3 separate regions of the Homo sapiens genome follow, and all the other regions are linked to region 1. Evidence: fine-mapped expression QTL. A gene starts in region 1. Each other region holds a variant in brackets. All regions are shown on one strand. Distances are between the middles of the regions.

Region 1 (6,636 bases):
CACAGGGCAGCCAGCACTGACAGCCTGGGCACCCACTGGGAATCCATGTCAGTCACCCATCAAGTGGCTGGGGCTGCAGCGGCGGGCAGCAGACCAGCACAGGCAGAAGCCCTGCCCATGGCTGGCCTGCCCACTGGCTCACCTTGCTGACGGAGCTGCTCTAGGTAGAGCTTGGCCAAGCGCAGCTTCTTTTCCTGTGCAGTTTCCTCCAGCTCCTCCTCCTCCTCCTCCTCAGGCTTCCTTGGAGCTAGGCTGTGGGCAGGAAGGGGCTGGGTCTGAGGGGCTCACCTTGTTCCTCTGACCGCTAGGATCGTGCCTTCTGGATGCTCACCTTGCCATCCAACCTCCCCTATTCCCTGCTAGCCCACATGGTCGGTGACTACACTGCAGAAAACTGAAGGATGTGACTCCCCAAACTAAAAGGCCCCACTCAGTGCCCCACGTAGGGGTGGAAACAGACCCAAATCCCAAAGAGATCACTAAAGCCTCTCAACTCTGGGGGAAAGAGGAGGCTTCCAAGAGAAACCAGGCTTCCAAAAGAAATCAGGTCACATACAAAGAGTCAGGAATCAAAATGTGCAGGCATCTCAACAGCAATACTGAGAACAAGAAGACAAAGAAGCCTCACACACAAAGCTCTGGAGGAATACACTGACCCCTAAAATGCCATGCCCAGTCAAACAATCAACGACGACACTGCCAGGTGTGCAAGGTGCCATGGAATTTTCTCCCTCTTTTTCTTTAGGAAGGATAGAAGCTGTGCTCCCAAACAAGAGGGTAAACTGGGAAAGAGAAAGGCAAGGGATACCGGAAACCAGAGATGCGACACAAGAGAGCAGAAAGGGTGACACTATCCCCAGACATGACGGGGGCAGTCTGGATCAGATCCAAGGACCCACCAGGCAGACACACCAGGACTGTCATCACCACAGCACCATCCTTTACCCTGGGAACAAGGTTCCAAGCGAACCTTCACTGTTTGGGGATTGGCCTTTACTGGTGAAGTTACGGCTTTCCCCTCCATGCCCCAGCCCCCGGACCAGCTGAGAGTACTCACTTCACCCAAAGACAGGTGCTGCTTTGACCTGCTCCTGGGAGCTGGGGGTAGGTCATGGGCACTCAGACACAGAGAATCCAAGGCAGCCCACTCCCTCTGATCATGTGCCTGAAGACATCTAGTCTCTGTCCACTCCCCTAACCGTGTTTCCCAAGACTCACTCGTAAACCTGCCCCTGACTTCCCCAGAAGGGACCTTGAAAACTCTCAGGAAAGCCAAAGCTGGACCATGCCCCAGAAATAATTTAGTGCCCTGTGCCTGGCAAGCCTTCAGCCAACAGGGCTAGTGCTGCCCTTCCCTTACACAGCCAAGGGACCTGTGTTAACTTCGGACTTCTACTCAATTTAGCCAAACTAATTAATCTATTGTTGAAGGATTCATACGCATGAGACAGAACGCTAAAGAAATGCAAGGGAAGTACACACTATGATTCCATTTACAGGGCATGCTAGAAAATGCACAACTCTAGGGGCAGTGGTTAGCAGAGACTTGGGGGGAAGGAGAGGGGCTGACTACGAAGGAGCAGGAGGAGTTCTGGAGGGTGATGAAACTCTTTACCTTCAGGGTAGAGGTGGTCACACAACTGTGTGTGTTTGTCAAAACTCACTGAACTATAACTTTAAAAAGGGCATGTTACTATATGTAAATTATACCTAAATGGAAAATGTTAATTTTTTAAAAGAAGAACAAAGAAACCAAAGAAATGATTAACTCAAGTTAGGAATGACAGTTGCGGCTTCTAAGTTTCTGCAAATGTTCTAGTTCTTAACCTAAGTGGTAAGTAAGTGTACAGAGGTTTACCATTTTACCATTACTCTCTGTAGTGCAAATATATCTCATTCACTTTTCTGTATCTAACACACTTCACAACACAACATTCTAAAAATATTTAAAAGCACTTAGCCCACACTAGCCTGGCACACACTCACCCACAATAACCTTCGGATTAAGAAAAGTACATTAATGGCTGGGTGTGGTGGCTCACGCCTATAATCCCAGCACTCTGGGAGGCTAAGATGGGCGGATCACTTGAGGTCAGGAGTTCGAGACCAGCCTGGCCAACATGGTGAAACTCCATCTCTACTAAACATACATAATTAGCCAGGCATGGTGGTGCAGGCCTATAATCCCAGCTACTCAGGTGGCTGAGGCAGGAGAATCACTTGAACCTGGGAAGCAGAGGTTGCAGTGAGCCGAGATCGCACCACTGCACTCCAGCCTGGGCAACAGAGTGAGACTCTGTCTCAAAAACAAAAAAAAAAAGTACATTCTTTCCATGAGCAAATTAAGGCAACACATACTCAATTTTAGAAGCGAGTTCTAAAGTCAACTCATAGGGAAGGCACTAGGATTCTCTGGTCCAAGAGCCTCCAACCCACAGGGTCAGGCCTGACACCATGCCTGACCCTTTGAAAACCTGCAAGCAACCACACCCATCACCTGCAGAAATGAGGGAGGCATCCAAAGCCCTCTACAATCTACATGCACTTATGACCAGTCCTCCTGTTTTTGTGTGTGGTTTTTTTTTAGAGACAGGATCTTGCTGTCACCCAGACTGGAGAGCAGTGCATGATCATAGTTCACTGCAGCTTCAACTCCCTGGGAAGGGATCCCCAAACCTTAGCCTCCTGAGTAGTTGGGACTACAGGTGCACACCACCATACCCAGCTAACTTTTTTTTTTTGTACAGACAAGATCTCGCTATGTTGCCCAGGCTGGTCTCAAACTCCTGACATCAAGCAATCCTCCCGCCTTGGCCTCCCAAAGTGCTGGGATTAGAGGCATGAGTTACCAGGCCCAGCCCCCTTTCATCTTTTCTACTGCCCATTCTGGCACACTTACACCTCAGACTTTCCTCTGATCACTGAATGCCTTCCCTACCTCTCCGTGAGAGACTCCTCTTCATCTCTCAAGACCCTATTTAAATGTCCCTCCTCTGTTCCCAGAACACACAACTATAAAATACACACCTCACTACAACACACTCTCTTCACCCGCCTGCCTATCTCTGCACTTCCAACAGCAAAGGCAGTGCCTGGCATGTTAAGAGACGGGGAGCCCAGTAATTGTGAAATTGCAGGAAAACTGGCAAGGGAAGAAGGATGCAAGAAATACTTGACAGCTTTGTTCTGTTTTCCTGCAATTTCTCAATCAGTCCAGTCCCTGCCAAAACCTAAGGAGGTCTCAATGGCCTCGGATTGGGGCCCAGGGTCCTTCCCACCCAGAGACCTCGCAGAAACAAGACTTTGCAGGACCAGAAACTAAAGGAAACAGCCACGATCTCAGAGCCAAGGGACAGAGTCTTGGATTCTAGGCTCAGTTCTGTTCGGACTCACTCAGTCTTCCGTGCACCATGGGACTCAGTTTTCCCTCCCACTATGTGGAAAAGAATAGCTCACCTCTCGCTCTCAGAGTCGCTGGAGATCTCCTCATTCATCTTGCCGCCACCCTTGGATTTGCCCCTGTCCCCCGCAGAGTCGGCCTGGGAATTATACGGTCTTTTCTTTGGTCAGGGGTCCAGACCACCCTGGCATTGACCAAGGGCCCCCCCCCCTCGGTTCCCTCAGAACCCCAGGAATGGGGAAGGCGGTGGTTCCCGGGTTAAGCGAACGGCTTTCTAGGATTTGGCCCGCGGAGAGAGGGACGAAGCTGACTCCAGCAGGGGTCCAGGGCGAAGGGCTGGGGAAGGGCCGGGACCCAGGTCCCCTGGATGGGATGACGGTTGTCCCAGTAGCAGGGCTGACCGCGGCCCTCAGAAGCGCCATGCTCACCTTTCGCCGCCGCTTGCCGGCCCCCGCGCCAGCCCCGGCCCCAGAGGCCGGCTTTCCCCGCTTACGAGCAGCCGCTGTTGCCGACATGCTGCCCACCAGGCGTGTAGCAGCGGCCGCAGAACTCACGTGGCAGCTGAACCCTCCCAGCTCCCCAGCCGCCTGGCAAGACCCCGCGTATTGATAGGCTTCCACCGCCCGCCGGGCCCCGCCTCCTACTGCTCCATTGGGTCCTTCTGCAGGCTCTGCCACGCCCCCAGGCACCCATAGGATGCACGCTTGTAGCCCCGCCTCCTGAAGTTCCTAGGCTCCCGCACCAGGCTCGAGTAGGAAGCCCGCATCTCCACGGCGCTTCCGGCCTGATGCTGTGGCGCTTGCGCTCTGCTGCTGGCCCACTTCGAAGTCGGAGCAAGAGCCTTCTCTGTGTTTGCGCCCCTTGGCCGCTGGGGGGCGCCAGAGACGCGGCGCCCTTTCGCGTTCTGGAACGTGACTCCTCCCCTCCATGGGCAGCCCGGCGCTAGACCCAACGGGGATCCAAGCAGCCCCGGGGAGAGGGAGGCTGCGTCTGTATCCGGGCCCAAGGTCACCGCGCGACCGGCAGATGCGTGCTGCAGGCCCCGGCCACATGAGCAGCGCTACGGACGCGACTGCCCCGGCCTTGGATATGCCAGATCGAGTGTCCACCCGTCCGTGGGACTGGTCGCCTGACTCGGCCTGCCCCAGCCTCTGCTTCACCCCACTGGTGGCCAAATAGCCGATGTCTAATCCCCCACACAAGCTCATCCCCGGCCTCTGGCGATTGTTGGGAATTCTCTCCCTAATTCACGCCTGAGGCTCATGGAGAGTTGCTAGACCTGGGACTGCCCTGGGAGGCGCACACAACCAGGCCGGGTGGCAGCCAGGACCTCTCCCATGTCCCTGCTTTTCTTGGGTGAGTGTCCTATGGTCCTGCCCACGGCAGGGCAGGGCAAGGCCTGGTGGGACTGGCCTTTGCCCTCTATCAGTTCAAGGCCACTGATCCGGAGTTCTGGCTCCTCAGAACTCTTGAGTCCATTGGGAAGGGCTTCTACAGCTCTGGGTTCTAAGCTCCGGGAGGATAATCTGGCCCCAAGAATCCTGCCCCCAGGATCCTCTGCCCACCCTCCCCCATAGCTCGGTGACTCGGCCCGGCAACCATGCCAGGGCTGAACTAGCTGACACAGGGGGAGGAGCCCCGAAGTGGAAGAGAGAGAGCCTCCTTTCACTTTCCCTACCCCTCAGGACACACAGGTGAGCTGCAGAGGGTAGGGAGCCAGGCAGACCCTGTTGACCAGAGTGGGCAGACTGGACAGAGTCCTAACCTTGCACTTGGGACTGGGGAAAGGGGTGTTTCTGAGTGACAAAGAGCTGGGTGTGGTCTGGGGCTGGGAATGCCGTCAGAGTGGACACAGGATGCAGTGGGAGGCCACCGAAGGGCCAACCCGGGGTGGGGCAAGTTGGTGCTGTGCTGGCCCAGGGCAGGGGTGGGGACTGAGAGTGGGTCGTTGGGGATGAGGAGACCATGGAGGCCTAAGGGCCTCTCTGTGCCCCAGGACAGCCATGGCTCCAAAGCCGAAGCCCTGGGTACAGACTGAGGGCCCTGAGAAGAAGAAGGGCCGGCAGGCAGGAAGGGAGGAGGACCCCTTCCGCTCCACCGCTGAGGCCCTCAAGGCCATACCCGCAGAGAAGCGCATAATCCGCGTGGATCCAACATGTCCACTCAGCAGCAACCCCGGGACCCAGGTGAGCTGCAGTCCCCAGTCAGGCCCAGAGCCTGCCCACTGATAAGCACAAACACACCCAGGCCACCCCCTTAGGACTCTGTTCTGGTTTTGGAGCCCAAGGCCCCCAGGTAAGCGCCAGAGCAAGGCCATGTTCTCCTGACCCCAGACATCAGGGCTGTGTCCCGTCAGGTCCAGGCGGGTCACATCTGCCCTTCAGACCCCATGCAGGCCTCCTCCCACCGCACTTAGGGAAAGGCTGTGACTACATCAGTCTCCTGGGCGCTTGCCCATGTCCCCTCAGGGCAGAGCCATGTCCCTCTCAGATTCCCCCATCCAGGGCCCAGCTGTGTCCCCCCCAGCACCCCCCATACCTCCATGTCAGGGTTTAGCCATGTCCTCTCACACCGCATCCCCTAGGGAAGAGCAGTGACCCCCCCAAGCTTCCAAGACAGGGTCCCTCTGACTCCCACTGCCGTCAGACTCCTGTCCCCATCAGAGCCCTCTCGGTGTACGGCCAGGCACCCCATCTGACCCCAGCCAGCCTGCCCCCCACCTCCCCTCTGGCCCAGGTGTATGAGGACTACAACTGCACCCTGAACCAGACCAACATCGAGAACAACAACAACAAGTTCTACATCATCCAGCTGCTCCAAGACAGCAACCGCTTCTTCACCTGCTGGAACCGCTGGGGCCGTGTGGTGAGTGCCCTGCCTGCTCTGCACATACTCCCCAGGGTCCTCAAAAGGCCACAGCTACTGACTTGGGGGGGCACCTCCCAACTGTCCCAGGGCACTCAGCACAGGGCCTGGCCCGACACACAGGCCAGCAAATGCTGATGGTGGGCATACCCCTGAAGGCTGTCGGTTGCAGGGAGAGGTCGGCCAGTCAAAGATCAACCACTTCACAAGGCTAGAAGATGCAAAGAAGGACTTTGAGAAGAAATTTCGGGAAAAGACCAAGAACAACTGGGCAGAGCGGGACCACTTTGTGTCTCACCCGGGCAAGTACACACTTATCGAAGTACAGGCAGAGGATGAGGCCCAGGAAGCTGTGGTGAAGGTGAGATGGC
Region 2 (6,636 bases), 35 kb before region 1:
CCATGCAAAAGACACTAGCTACTAGCACTAGGACATGGGATCAATGACATCCAAGTCAGGGCTCCTCCTACCTCTGCCTTTGACTCTGCTCCTAAGGACAAATGGGTTGGCATCTCCTTCTGCTGAGGCTCATCTTCTTTTGAGGGTTCCTTCGTCTTTTGGGGCTGCTTCTCCTCCTGCAATCAGCATTAGGGGAAAGGCAAGAGTGAGGCTGCGGTCCCTCCCTCTCCATTCAATATGGCACACATCCCCAGCTTCCAGGGCTTCTTAGAGTCTTCAGTGTCAGGGGGTCCCTTCACCCTGAGAGATCTATGGGGACATCCCTAACAAGCCTGGTGTGTCTGGCTTTCTCTTACCATTGGTCACATATGGATTGATTGTAGATGGTTCAAATCCCCTCACATCTGTGTTCATCCAGCCATAGCATAGGCAGGAAGGGTGGAGGAAGAAAGGCCTGTGATGTCATAAGGGCACCTGTGACTCAGGCACCAGATGGCTCCTAACAAGTGAGCCCCCTCCAAGGGAAAGACAAAAGCGCTGCCCATTCTTTTCTGCCAGAAATGGCCAAAGCCCTGACTTCAAAGGCAAGATGCCAGAAATACTGGCCCATTGCTGTAAGGTTTATAAAAAGCCAGTCATTTCTAATAACATTTAATTGAAAAAACTTGGCCAGGCGCAGTGGCTCAGGCCTGTAATCCCAGCACTTTGGGAGGCCGAGGCAGGCAGATCAACTGAGGTCAGGAGTTCGAGACCAGCCTGGCCAACATGGCAAAACCTTGTCCCTACTAAAATTACAAAAATTAGCTGGGTGTGGTGGCTGTCACCTGTAATCCCAGCTACTCAGGAGGCTGAGACAGGAGAATCGCTTGCACCCAGGAGGTGGAGTTTGCAGTGAGCCAGGATCATGCCACTGCACTCCAGGCTGGGCAAGAGAGCAAGACTCCATCTCAAAAAAAAAAAAAAAAGAAAAGAAAAAACTTATATAGCCAACTTAAATAATCAATAGGGGATTAATTTAATGATGCATAGTTCATTCATACTATAAAATACTACATAACTATTAAAAATAAGAATTTGATCTATATTACTAATGAGGAAATATATAAAGATGTATTTATAAGTAAAAAACTAAAGTTCCTTTTGATCCCACTATGCAAACAAAACTAGGAACATAATTATACACATAAAATTGAATAATTTATGCCAGAAGTTATTACATGATACACATTATATGTTGTAAATGAATATAAAGAAGAAAAAAGGTATATATACCAAACTATTACCAATGATTACCTTTGGAGAGGAGAGTTAAATTGCTGACTCATGCCTAACACAGTCCCCAAGGAACCCCATGAGGGCCTGAGGACCAGCCTGGACTCCATCTGAGGCTCAAATGGGTCCAAGTGCTCTCCTGTCTTCCTCTGTCCCTGGGGTCTCAAGGCCACAATCAGATGGATGAAGGTGGCCACTGCACAAGCATGGCCCCTTTCTGCCTGATCTCGGCCTCTGAAGACCCAGCTGGACAGGGTAAGGCCATGAGAGGCACAGCCCCTGGGGTCACTGAGAAGTGCACTTGAAATGTATAGGGTGAGTATGGGAGAGGCCAATGTGGATCTGTAGGGGGAATGTAGGGAAGAGGAGGAGGCCATTTGAGGCTGGGATGTGAAGTTAATGGGATGAGGGGGTGGAGAATATGGGAATACATTGAAAGATGTGGGAAGTTGTGGGTGTGATATAGTTTGGCTCTGTGTCCCCACCCAAATCTCATCTTGAATTTTAACTCCCGCAATTCCCATGTGTTGTGGAAGGAACCTGGTGGGAGGTGACTGAATTATGGGGGCAGGTCTTTCCTGTGCTGTTCTCATGATAGTGAATGAATCTCAAGAGATTTGATGGTTTTAAAAATGGGAGTTTGGGCTGGGTGCAGTGGCTCATGCCTGTAATCCTAGAACTTTGGGAGGCTGAGGCGGGAGGATCATGAGGTCAGGAGATCAAGACCATCCTGGCTAACACGGTGAAACCCCGTCTCTACTAAAAATACAAAAAATTAGCCAAGTGTGGTGGTTGACACCTGTAGTCCCAGTTACTGGGGAGGCTGAGGCAGCAGAATGGCATGAACCTGGGAGGCAGAGCTTGCAGTGAGCTGAGATCATGCCACTGCACTCCAGCCTGGGCGACAGAGCAAGACTCCATCTCAAAAAAAAAAAAAAAGGCAGTTTGCCTGCACAAGCTCTCTTTGCCTGCTGCCATCCATGTAAGACGTGATTTGCTCCTCCTTGCCTTCCACCATGATTGTGAGGCCTCCTCAGCCATGTGGAACTGTAAGTCCAATTAAACCTCTTTCTTTTGTAAATTGCCCAGTCTTCAGTATGTCTTTTCAGCAGCTGAAAATGGACTAATACAGTAAATTGGTACCAGTAGAGTGGGGTGTTGCTGAAAAGATACCCAAAAATGTGGAAGCAACTTTGGAACTGGGTAACAGGCAGAGCTTGGAACAGTTTGGAGGACTCAGAAGAAGACAGGAAAATGTGGGAAAGTTTGGAACTTCCTAGAGATTTGTTGAATGGCCTTGACCAAAAAGCCTGATAGTGATATGGACAATAAGGTCCTGGCTGAGGTGATCTCAGATGGAGATGAGGAGCTTCTTGGGAACTGGACCAAAGGTGACTCTTATGTCGCCAAAAAGAGACTGGCAACATTTTGCCCCTTCTGTAGAGATTTGTGGAACTTTGAACTCGAGAGAGGTGACTTAGGGTATCTGGCAAAATAAATTTCTAAGCAGCAAAGCATTCAAGATGTGACTTGGGTGCTGTTAAGAGCATTCAGTTTTATAAGGGAAGCAGAGCATAAAAGTTCAAAAAGTTTTCAGCCTGACAATGTGATAGAAAAGAAAACCCCATTTTCTAAGGAGAAATTCAAGCCGACTTCAGAAATTTGCATAAGTAATGAGGAGCCAAATGTTAATCCCCAAGACAATGGGGAATATGTCTCCAGGACATGTCAGAGGCCTTCACAGCAGCCCCCCATCGCAAGCCCAGAGGCCCAGGAGAAAATGGTTTCATGGGTTGGGCCCAGAGTC[C/T]CTGTGCTGTGTGCAGCCTAGGGACTTGGTGGCCTGTGTCCCAGCCACTCCAGCCATGGCTGAAAGGGGCCAATGTACAACTCAGGCTGTGGCTTCAGAGGGTGCAAGCCCCAAGCCTTGGCAGCTTCCACATGGTGTTGAGCCTGTGAGTACACAGAAGTCAAGAATTGGAGTTTGGGAACTTCCGCCTAAATTTCGGAGGATGTATGGAAATGCCTGGATGCCCAGGCAGAAGTTTGCTGCAGAGGCTGGGCTCTCATGGAGAACCTCTGCTAGGGCAGTGTGGAAGGGAAATGTAAGGACAGAGGTCCCACACAGAGTCCCTATTGGGGAACCGCCTAGTGGAGCTGTGAGAAGAGGTCTACTGTCCTCCAGACCCCGGAATGGTAGATCCAGCTTGCACTGTTCACCTGGAAAAGCCACAGACACTGATCGCCAGCCCATGAAAGCAGCTGGGAGGGAGCCTGTACCCTGCAAAGCCACATGGGTGGAGCTGCCCAAAACCATGGGAACCTACCTCTTGCATCAGCATGACCTGGATATCAGACATGGAGTCAAAGTAGATCATTTTGAAGCTTTAAGATTTGACTGCCCCACTAGATTTCGGACTTGCATGGGGCCTGTAGCCTCTTTGTTTTGGCCAATTTCTCCCATTTAGAATGGCTGTATTTACCCAATGCCTGTACCCTCATTATATCTAGGAAGTAACTAACTTGCTTTTGATTTTACAGGCTCATAGGCAGAAGAGACTTGCCTTGTCTCGGATGAGACTTTGGACTGTGGACTTTTGAGTTAATGCTGAAATGAGTTGAGACTTTGGGGGACTGCTGGGAAGGCATGATTTGTTTTGAAATGTGAGAACATGAGATTTGGGAGGGGCCAGGGGTGGAATGATATGGTTTGGCTCTGTGTCCCCACCCAAATCTCATCTTGAATTATAACTCCCACAATTCCCACATGTTGTGGGAGGAACCTGGTGGGAGGTGATTGAATTATGGGGGCAGGTCTTTCCTACGCTTTTCTTGTGATAGTGAATGAGTCTCATGAGATCTGATGGTTTTAAAAAATGGGAGTTTGGGCTGGGCGTGGTGGCTTACACCTGTAATCCCAGCACTTTGGGAGGCCGAGGCGGGCAGATCACCTGAGGTCAGGAGTTCGAGACCAGCCTGGCTAACGTGGTGAAACCCTGTTTCTACTAAAAATACAAAAAATTAGCTGGGCATGGTGGCTTGTGCCTGTAATCCCACTACTCAGGAGGCTGAGACAGGAGAATCGCTTGAACCTGGGAGACAGAGGTTACAGTGTGCCAAGATGATGCCATTGCACTCCAGCTTGGGCAACAAGAGTGAAACTTCGTCTCAAAAAAAAAAAATGGGGGTTTGCCTACAGTAGCTCTCTTTGCCTGCTGCCATCCATGTAAGACACGACTTGCTCCTCCTTGCCTTCTGCCATGATTGTGAGGCTTCCCCAGCCATGTGGAACTGTAAGTCCAATTAAACCTCTTTCTTTTGTAAATTGCCCAGTCTTGGGTATGTCTTTATCAGCAGCCTGAAAATGGACTAATAGAGGGTGTGACAGAGAAGGTGTGATATGTGTTCATTTGAGGATAATAGGATACAGGCCTTTGTTGTAACACTAGTCAGTTTTTTACTTCCCCCAACTCCCAACACTCCCTACACCTCCCCACCAACACACACACACATACTCATGAAAGCCTTGTGCTTCATTATCTGGAAGAATAAACCCCAAACTCCTCACGACCTAAGTAGTGGGCATCGGTTTTTTGAGAGAGAAGAAGACAAAAAAGTCCAGGTGTGGTGGCTCACACCTGTAATCCCAGCACTTTGGGAGGCCAAGGCAGGTGGATCACTTGCACCCAGGAGTTTGAGACCAGCCTGGGCAACATAACGAAACCCTGTATCTACAAAAAATACAAAAATCAGCCAGGCATGGTGGTGTGCATTTGTAGTCCCACCTACTTGGGAGACAGAGGTGGGAAAATCACCTGAGCCCAGGGAGGTCGAGGCTGCAGTGAGCCATGATTGCACCATTGCACTCCAACCTGGGTGACAGAGCGAGACCCAGTCTTTAAAAAAAAAAAGATAGAAAATTTAAATCAAAAATCTAATTACTGATCAGAATATATGGGGTAACTCACATCCTGTGAAGAATAAAAAGCCCTGGCAACATCAAGAGAGGAAATGAAACGTATAAAGGCTGGTCTGGGCATGGAAGGGCTTCCCTCCAGAGTAGCCAGAAAGGAGGAAGAAACGCCACTGCATGGGAATGTCAGAGGGCTCCACCTCCAGTTAGGATGCAGAGGGTCACAAAATACTCCCGCAACAACTGCACAATAAGAAAACACCTGACAAACTTAAAACATCACATAGCAGTAGGTATGGAGCATCTAAAACTGAATTCTAAAGTGGCTCTGTCCCTGTCTAGTTGCACGGAGGTTAGTGGCTGCTTTCATGCCTGTGGATATGTACCAAATCTCTGGACACAAGGACCTGCAGGAGTAAGCCCGCCATATGCAGTGAAATGCTGTGATGGGGAGAAACCAGCTGAACTTGAACTTTCAATGGTTGCATGCGAGCTGCAAGACAATTTGGAATCTGGAAAAGCCACACACACACACACACACACACACACACACACACACACACACACACACACACACAGTGAGTCCTCTGCTGCCACCATTCCCTCCCATGGGACTTCTGCTGGACCCACAGCAGCACAGGGAGCCAGGGGCTGGCCTGGACAGCAGAGAGAGCTCTCAAGTCTCACAGTGCTAATATTCCACACTTTTGCTGGAGAAAGGAGCCTGATCCCAGCCTCAAGACATTTGAAACTGAGGGGGATGCAAACCAACTAAAGTGTCAAAACAGCCCCAACCTAACTGAACTCCTGATTAGTTGAAAAATGGCCCACCCTAGTCTCTACTGCTTTTATCTAGTGTTTGCATACAATTTTAAAAATGAGACACATGAAGAAGCAGAAAAATGTGACCTGTAATCAAAAGGAAAAAAAGCAATAGAAGCAGACTCACAGATGACTCATATGTTAGAATTAGCAAAGACTTTGAAACAACAAAGATTATATAAATAGACATATAATCGAAAATAATTTACAGGTAAAGGTAGAAAAAAATGAATAAAAAGATGGAGAATTTTGGCAGACAAATGGAAACTCTAAAAAACAGAATACAAGAAATGCAATTTTTTTTTCTACTTAAAGAGACAGGGTGTTGTTATATCATCCACTTTAGTCTCAAACTCCTGAGCTCAAGAAACACTCCTGAGTAGTAGGGACTACAAGCACGTGCCACCATGCCTAGTTCTGAAATTCTAAAACTGAAAAATACAATACCCAAAATGAATAGTTCACTAGAGAGAGTAACAAAAGAAAGGATTATCAAACTCAAAGGCAGGTCAAAAAATTATACGAACATGATAAATACAAAGAAAACTACATATAGGGACAATAATGAAATTGATAAAAATCAAGGGAAAAGAAAATTGTTTCTAAAAAACCAGGTGGTTCCTGCCTGTAAT
Region 3 (6,636 bases), 540 kb before region 1:
TGCAGTGGCTGATGCCTGTATCCCAGCACTTTGGGAGGCCAAAGCAGGCGGATCACGACGTCAGGAGATCAAGACCATCCTGGCTAACACGGTGAAACCCTGTCTCTACTAAAAATACAAAAAATTAGCTGGGGGTGGTGGCGGGCGCCTGTAGTCCCAGCTACTCAGGAGGCTGAGGCAAGAGAATGGCATGAACCCGGGAGGCGGAGCTTGCAGTGAGCCAAGACTGCGCCACTGCACTCCAGCCTGGGCAACAGAGTGAGACTCCATCTCAAAAAAAAAAAAAAAAAAAAAAGATCTCAGAATCAAGCTGTTTCTCTTCCTAGGGCCAGGGCTCTGCATCTGCAATCAGGGAGTCCCTGCAGACTCCAGGGCCTACGTAAAGGTACGTGGGGGCGCATGGGTGTGGTTTTCTATAGTTTCTATGGCTTTCACCCTATCCTAAAAGGGCTCTTCATAAGCCCAGTAAGGTTCAGAGCTACTGCTCTAAAGGATTAGTGTTAGGCAAAACCATGGGTGCTAAGAATGCTCTCCTTGCTGACAGCAGCTGGCTCTTCTATGAAACACAGAAAGAGCCATGGAGTGTGCTCCAGATGCCACCTCTGCATCTCCACCTCAATTCTGAAGTCCACTCTGAGACGTCCTCAAGTTGTGATCCATTATTTTCACATCGTAAATATTCTCATAAAGTAACAACATTCTCACAACTGATAGAGTTAAAGTTTTCCAGATTACCTTTGGCTTGAAAGAAGGAATTTCCTCAACAGCTAAAAGAGGCAGTAATTGTACAGGCCAAATACAAACTGAGTGGCTTTATATTCAAATTAAGAATGGAAAAATTAAAGTGATGCTCTCTTATTTTGGGAGCACCACCATCAGCTGGCCTGCTGTTTGCTGACCCTGCGAACCTGCCCTGCTAACTACTTGTAATTGAAAGGAGGTATAACTTGTTTCCCATGTCTCACTATTCACACGTGACAAAAACGTTCATTAAAACTTTGTCTGACCAGGCTTCGGCCTACTCCACTGAATCACCTCAGCCTCCAAGTATGAAAAAACAGAAGTTGATGAACAGCAGATGAACATATAGAAGACACTCCCCTACCCTCCCACCCTCAAGCTTCCTCAAAATACAGCCTTGGTAAGAAGATTCATGTACAGCTGCAGAGCTAACAGCCTCTTTGAACTATTTGCTGATTTCTGCAGGATTCATTACCATAGTCAGGGGACAACTTGACTTCAGAAACCTAATGGGAAATAACTAGAAGAACTGGAGTTTGTTCCTCAAAATTTGGATTAAGAAAAAAAGGTAAATAAAAGGAAGTGAATAAACCAGAAGCCAAAGGGAAAATATTTTCCCCTTGGCTGTTAGGAGGGATTAGCCAAAGGGAGACAGGAAAGGGCTCCTCCACAAGAGGGCCTGCATTTCTTTATAATTCACCCCAAAAAGAACAGCACCCCATGAGGGGCTGCTTCTGACTGATTCTAGCCATGCCTCTCGGCGGAGAGCTACACTTTGGCCTTTCATTCTAAGGCTAATCCTCTGAAGCAGGAGTTGACAAACTACAAGCCCACCACCTATTTTTGCAAAACAAAGTTTTATTAGAACACAGCCACAATCATTCATTTACGGATTGTCTATGACTGCTTTCTCACTACAACAGCAGAGTTGAAGAGCTGCAACAAAGGCCATATACCCTACAAAGCATTTTTTTTTTTTTTTTTTTTTTTTTGAGATGGAGTCTCACTCTATTATCCCAGCCTGGAGTGCAGTGGCACGATCTCGGCTCACTGCAACCTCCGCCTCCCAGGTTCAAGCGATTCTCCTGCCTCAGCCTCCCAAGTAGCTGGGATTATAGGCATGTGCCACCACGCCCAGCTAATTTTGTATTTTTAGTAGAGACAGGATTTCATCATGTTGCCCAGGCTGGTCTCGAACTCCTGACCTCAGGTGATCCACCCGCCTCAGCCTCCAAAGTGCTGGGATTACAGGCGTGAGCCACCGTGCCCGGCTGCATAAAATATTTACTGTCTGATCTTACAGAAAAAGTCTGCCAATCTCTACTTGAAAGATAAGAAATGACAGCCATTTGGTTGGGTTCCACAGTCTGACAGGAGAGGAGGGCAGAGATGCAAAGGTGCTTTGCCTCAAGAGACCAGAGTAGTGAATCAAATTATGGGGCACAGAACCGTGGTATGGCTTGCCCTCTAAGTTGTATGGGCACAAAAGAAGGGATCTTGCCCTGGGTGCCAAGGCTCAGCCTGAACTCTGCCCTATACTTACTGTCCCCCAGGATCAGTTCCACCTCCTCATCTGCATCAGAGTCTTCATCCTCCCCGTCCTCTCCCTCCTCTAGAAGGTTTGCTAGCTCCTCATCAGAGGGAGAGAAGTCATTGTCCCCATCTTCCCCTGCGTTCTCATTATTGTCGTCCTCCTCCAACTCCGCCTCCAGCAACTGGTCAGTGTCAAGCTCATCTAAATCATCGGTGTCATCATCATCTTCATCATCATCTTCTTCCTCCTGTTCTTCCTCTTCCTGGTAAGAAAGCGTAATGTTCATTAGTACAAACACAGAGGCCTGACCCATGGGGGCCACATGGCGGGTCGACCAAAGAGACAGGGTAGGAAACTGTCAGTAGAGGGTAGTAGTGATCTAGACGAGCACAGACTTCATGAGCCAGCCAGACTTGTCAGTGATGGCTGAGATAGGCACACATGTCCCTCAAGACGGTCAAAGCACCCCTCAGACAAGGATTAATGGTCACATAGCCCTTATGCAAGGAAACAGACAACTCGCTTCACAGAAGTCTCTGCCTTCAATATTCTAGGAGCCCAAGGGGACTCTTCTTTCTCACCTGCATCAACCAAAGCAAGTGAAATCAGCTGAGACACTAGAAAAAATCCTTTTACCTGGAATCTAAAATGCAATGCTTTAACAAAATGGAAGAACACAACTGCTCATTATCTCCTCAGCCCTTCAAGCTCTTGCCCTTGATCTTCTAACCAAGAATGT[G/A]GATAAGCTCCTAACTATGCTATCACAAACATTTGATCAGAACAACATTGCAACAAAAGACTTAAAATATAGAACACTAACAGAAACCCATATTTCCTGTCATAAGCCAAAAAGAAAAAAAAGTATGCTGGAGAAACTATCTTTCTTTCCATTCTTACAAGAACTTGCAAAGGCAAGAAAATTACCAGAACATCAATGAAATACTTTGTTCTAGGGACTCTGGGCTTTGTAAATGGTACATTCTGGCATCTGCCACAGATTTCAGGTTTGCATTAGAATCCCAACTGTTTCCCTTCAAAAGGGAGAGGACACAAAGATACCTCTTTGCTTTGACAGGGATAAGAGGCATTTCCAAGTAAACGTAGCTGCCACTCAAGACACTTATCTTTCTGCTCAAACATCAACTGTCAGCCTTGCCAATAGCAAAGGATTCTAATTGTTACAATAATAAAATGTAAAATTCATTTAATACATCAACCTAATGAAATTCAAGATGGAATAAGCCCAACGTAAGCACAAAAAAATTTTTTTTGTTCTTATTATTTTAAAACTTATACTCAGTGGTTACATCTTTTTTCATTTTGAAGGTGTTATTGCCTGCCAAGCACTTAAAAAACAAGCATTTTGTGCTTACCCAGCCACTAGAAACCAGTGTGTAACATAAGCTAGGATCATTCAGCAGGGTAGCTCCGCTTTGTGGACTTCTGGTAATTTTGGAACCACCATTAGTGACTTTTTGATAAACTGTGTAATTCAGTAATTTAGACTCTTCAAAATTTCTGCCAGTTATGTTGGAAAAACTGAGCCCCTTTTAAATACCTAGTACTCCTAATACTTGTGCAAGTGCGTGTATGGTCTGTACCAGATTCGGTGGGAGCATTTGTGTATGTGCCAACACACACACACATAGAAGGCCTGAGACTATTCCAAAGCCTTGGCCACACATCCCCTCCAGAGGTGAGTGGATAAATAACTACTAAGCATTCACCCGCCTCAAAGGAACTATGAGTGTCTGGAGTCAACAATGATAAACTGAAACACAGACAGGCTCTCAGCCCCTACAAGCACATAAGCTCATACAAATAACTGGGAAAGGAGAGCGGGGTCAAAATTCAGGGGATATCATCCAAGTGCTTACCAGATTACAACTTTTGCCTCTTTTTCCAGGCGTATTTTCATAGACTTGACCAAAATTAGCTAATCCACTAACAAAGTGCCACAGTTAAAAATAAGTAAGGAAGAAAGTACCCAGGGCCCTGTGTCTTAAGGCTTCGTGGACAGAACACTTATATTTAAAATTTAAGATAGCACAACTAAAGGTCCACGGTTGAGTGTGTACATGAAAGGTTAAACTGCTCAAATAGGCATGGGCTAGCCAGAAAATTCATGAAGACAATTCTCTTTCATTTTGAAGAACATTGAGGCTTAGCTGATCTAGAAGAACTGAACAAAAAGCTTCCATATCAAGAGCAATCCTGGAATATTTTCAAGCAGGGTCTAAGCTTTGAACTAGATACCATTCCAAACTCTTCCAGCAGCAGACAAACCCAAATTTTACTTAATTTTATAGCAGAAGAAACAGATGTATATATATTCATCCCAGAAGGCCACAAACACATATGTGACCATGAGAGAGAGGAGGGGAAATTAGTAGGAAAGAGATCTACCTGAATCTCAAGTTGAGCACCTCACTTTGTCGTCTCTACTTTGTATTTAATGCCCAATGCTGATTTCTCACCATGCATTTTGTCACACATGGACATAGCCATAAACTCACTTTCCAAATTTTAAATCTGAAACTGGGATCATGAAGCAGAGGCTCACAAGACTCATCCAAAATGCTGTGGCAGAACCCAAAAGAGATTCTAGGAAGCAATTTTAGGTGCATTCTCTGCTGGTCAAGTAACTGGTGGCATGAACCCCTCTCCTTCAGATCTAAAGAATAAAGCTTCCAATAATGAGTGGTCCAAAAAGTAAAAACTAAAAATAATTATTTAATGAAAAAGCAAAGCTTAGCTGGGCACAACGGCACACACCTGTAGTCCCAGCTACTCAGGAAGCTGAGGCAGGAGGATCACTTGAACCCAGGAATTCAAGGCTACATTGAACTACGATTGTGCCACTGCACTCCAGCCTGGGCAACAGAGTGAGATCCCATTTCTTTGAAAACAAAAACAAAAACAAAAACAGGCCGGGCGTGGTGGCTCACACCTGTAATCCCAACACTTTGGGAGGCTGAGGCGGGCAGATCACGAGGTAAGGAGATCAAGACCATCCCGGCTAACACAGTGAAACCCCGTCTCTATTAAAAATACAAAAAATTTGCTGGGTGTGGTGATGGGCACCTGTAGTCCCAGCTACTCTGGAGGCTGAGGCAGGAGAATGGCATGAACCCAGGAGGCGGAGCTTGCAGTGAGCCGAGATCGCGCCACTGCACTCCAACCTGGACAACAGAGCAAGACTCTGTCTCAAAAAAAAAAAAAAAAAAAAAAACCAAATTTTTCTAGAATCCTGACTCAACTCTGACAACATTTAGAAAATGTTTTGGATCCAGGGATATTGTTTTTTTTTTTAATTCTCTAAGACTTCTTTTAGGGCTTAGAGGAATTCAGGGCCAGGCCATTTTAAATTAAGGTACTAATAAATTTCTCTACAGAAAGAATTCTAAAACTCTTCTCTCCTTAATTCCACCTACATCAATTTCATGGTTACCCAAAGCCCCCAAACCCTGCAGATAAACAACTCACCCCTTTCCTTTACAGAAAATAGGTCAACTGGCATAAGCTCCCTCCGCTGCTCTCTGGTCCCCTCTACATCTAAACCTGGCTTCAGCCCTGGTCTGAGGAGGAAGCATGCTACCCACTCCTGCTCTGGATCTCAACCAACCCTGAGACCCTGTTACCACAGACACTTTTCTCATCCCCACCTCACCACCACCTTCACACTGGCTTCTCACTTTCTATGCCAAGAGGTTCAGTTCTCCCAAACCTAATAAGCTCTCCATCTACATAGGCTTCAGATGCCTTTTACCTACACTTTGGCTGGGCGCAGTGGCTCACACCTGTAATCCCAGCACTTTGGGAGGCCAAGGCGGGTGGATCACCTGAGGTCAGGAGTTCGAGACCAGCCTGGGCAACAGGGTGAAACCTCGTCTCTACTAAAATACAAAATTAGTCGGGTGTGGTGGCACATGCCTTTAGTCCCAGCTACTTGGGAGGCTGAGACAGAAGAATTGCTTGAACCTAGGAGGCGGAAGCCTGGGCGAGACAGAGTGAGACTCCATCTCAAAAAAAAAAAAAAAAAAAAACAACAACAAAACCGTCATTCAAATCTGATCCTGACCTTTATGTAACATGTCATATTTTGCTAAATGTATAAATGCCTACTTTTTAAAAAATACTTTTTCTGTCCTTAAAGGCTATAGGTTCACTTTAGGGTCATAAATGTTTGTTTTTCTTTCCTCAATGGCAGAATCTAACTCAAGTTACATTTCAATTCTTTAAGAAAATGAGGCCTTTCAGGAATCAACACATTCAGCTCTGACCAGGTGTGTGTAATCAGTAAAGACTCTTAACATCCGCTTCTAGGCAGTGGAGAACACACAGGAAGCACAGCACACAGT

What was found. PIP is the estimated chance that this variant, and not a neighbour inherited with it, causes the effect. A credible set is the group of variants that fine-mapping cannot tell apart.
Region 2: its variant is the best candidate, but not a certain one, in a credible set for the expression of PARP3 in whole blood (TOPMed, PIP 0.81).
Region 3: its variant is the best candidate, but not a certain one, in a credible set for the expression of PARP3 in lung (TOPMed, PIP 0.53).

What each region holds. Positions count from the first base shown.
Region 1 is chr3:51,937,953-51,944,588 of GRCh38, forward strand. It overlaps PARP3 (poly(ADP-ribose) polymerase family member 3), which reads left to right and starts at 4,411. Exons shown (of 11, transcript NM_001003931.4): 1 at 4,411-4,756; 2 at 5,402-5,586; 3 at 6,137-6,265; 4 at 6,438-6,626. The coding sequence starts at 5,404. RRP9 (ribosomal RNA processing 9, U3 small nucleolar RNA binding protein) reads right to left here and starts at 3,952. Exons shown (of 15, transcript NM_004704.5): 1 at 3,829-3,952; 2 at 3,457-3,539; 3 at 143-252. The coding sequence starts at 3,915. RefSeq lists enhancers at 3,314-3,962, 4,087-4,416.
Region 2 is chr3:51,902,914-51,909,549 of GRCh38, forward strand. It overlaps IQCF1 (IQ motif containing F1), which reads right to left and starts at 440. Exons shown (of 4, transcript NM_152397.3): 1 at 357-440; 2 at 72-176. The coding sequence starts at 359. RefSeq lists an enhancer at 1-197. The variant C/T (reference allele first, on the strand shown) is at 3,080.
Region 3 is chr3:51,400,859-51,407,494 of GRCh38, forward strand. DCAF1 (DDB1 and CUL4 associated factor 1) reads right to left here. Exons shown (of 25, transcript NM_001387579.1): 24 at 2,285-2,537. Among named protein-coding and RNA genes, the nearest start is that of RBM15B, 13 kb to the left of the region's middle. The variant G/A (reference allele first, on the strand shown) is at 3,015.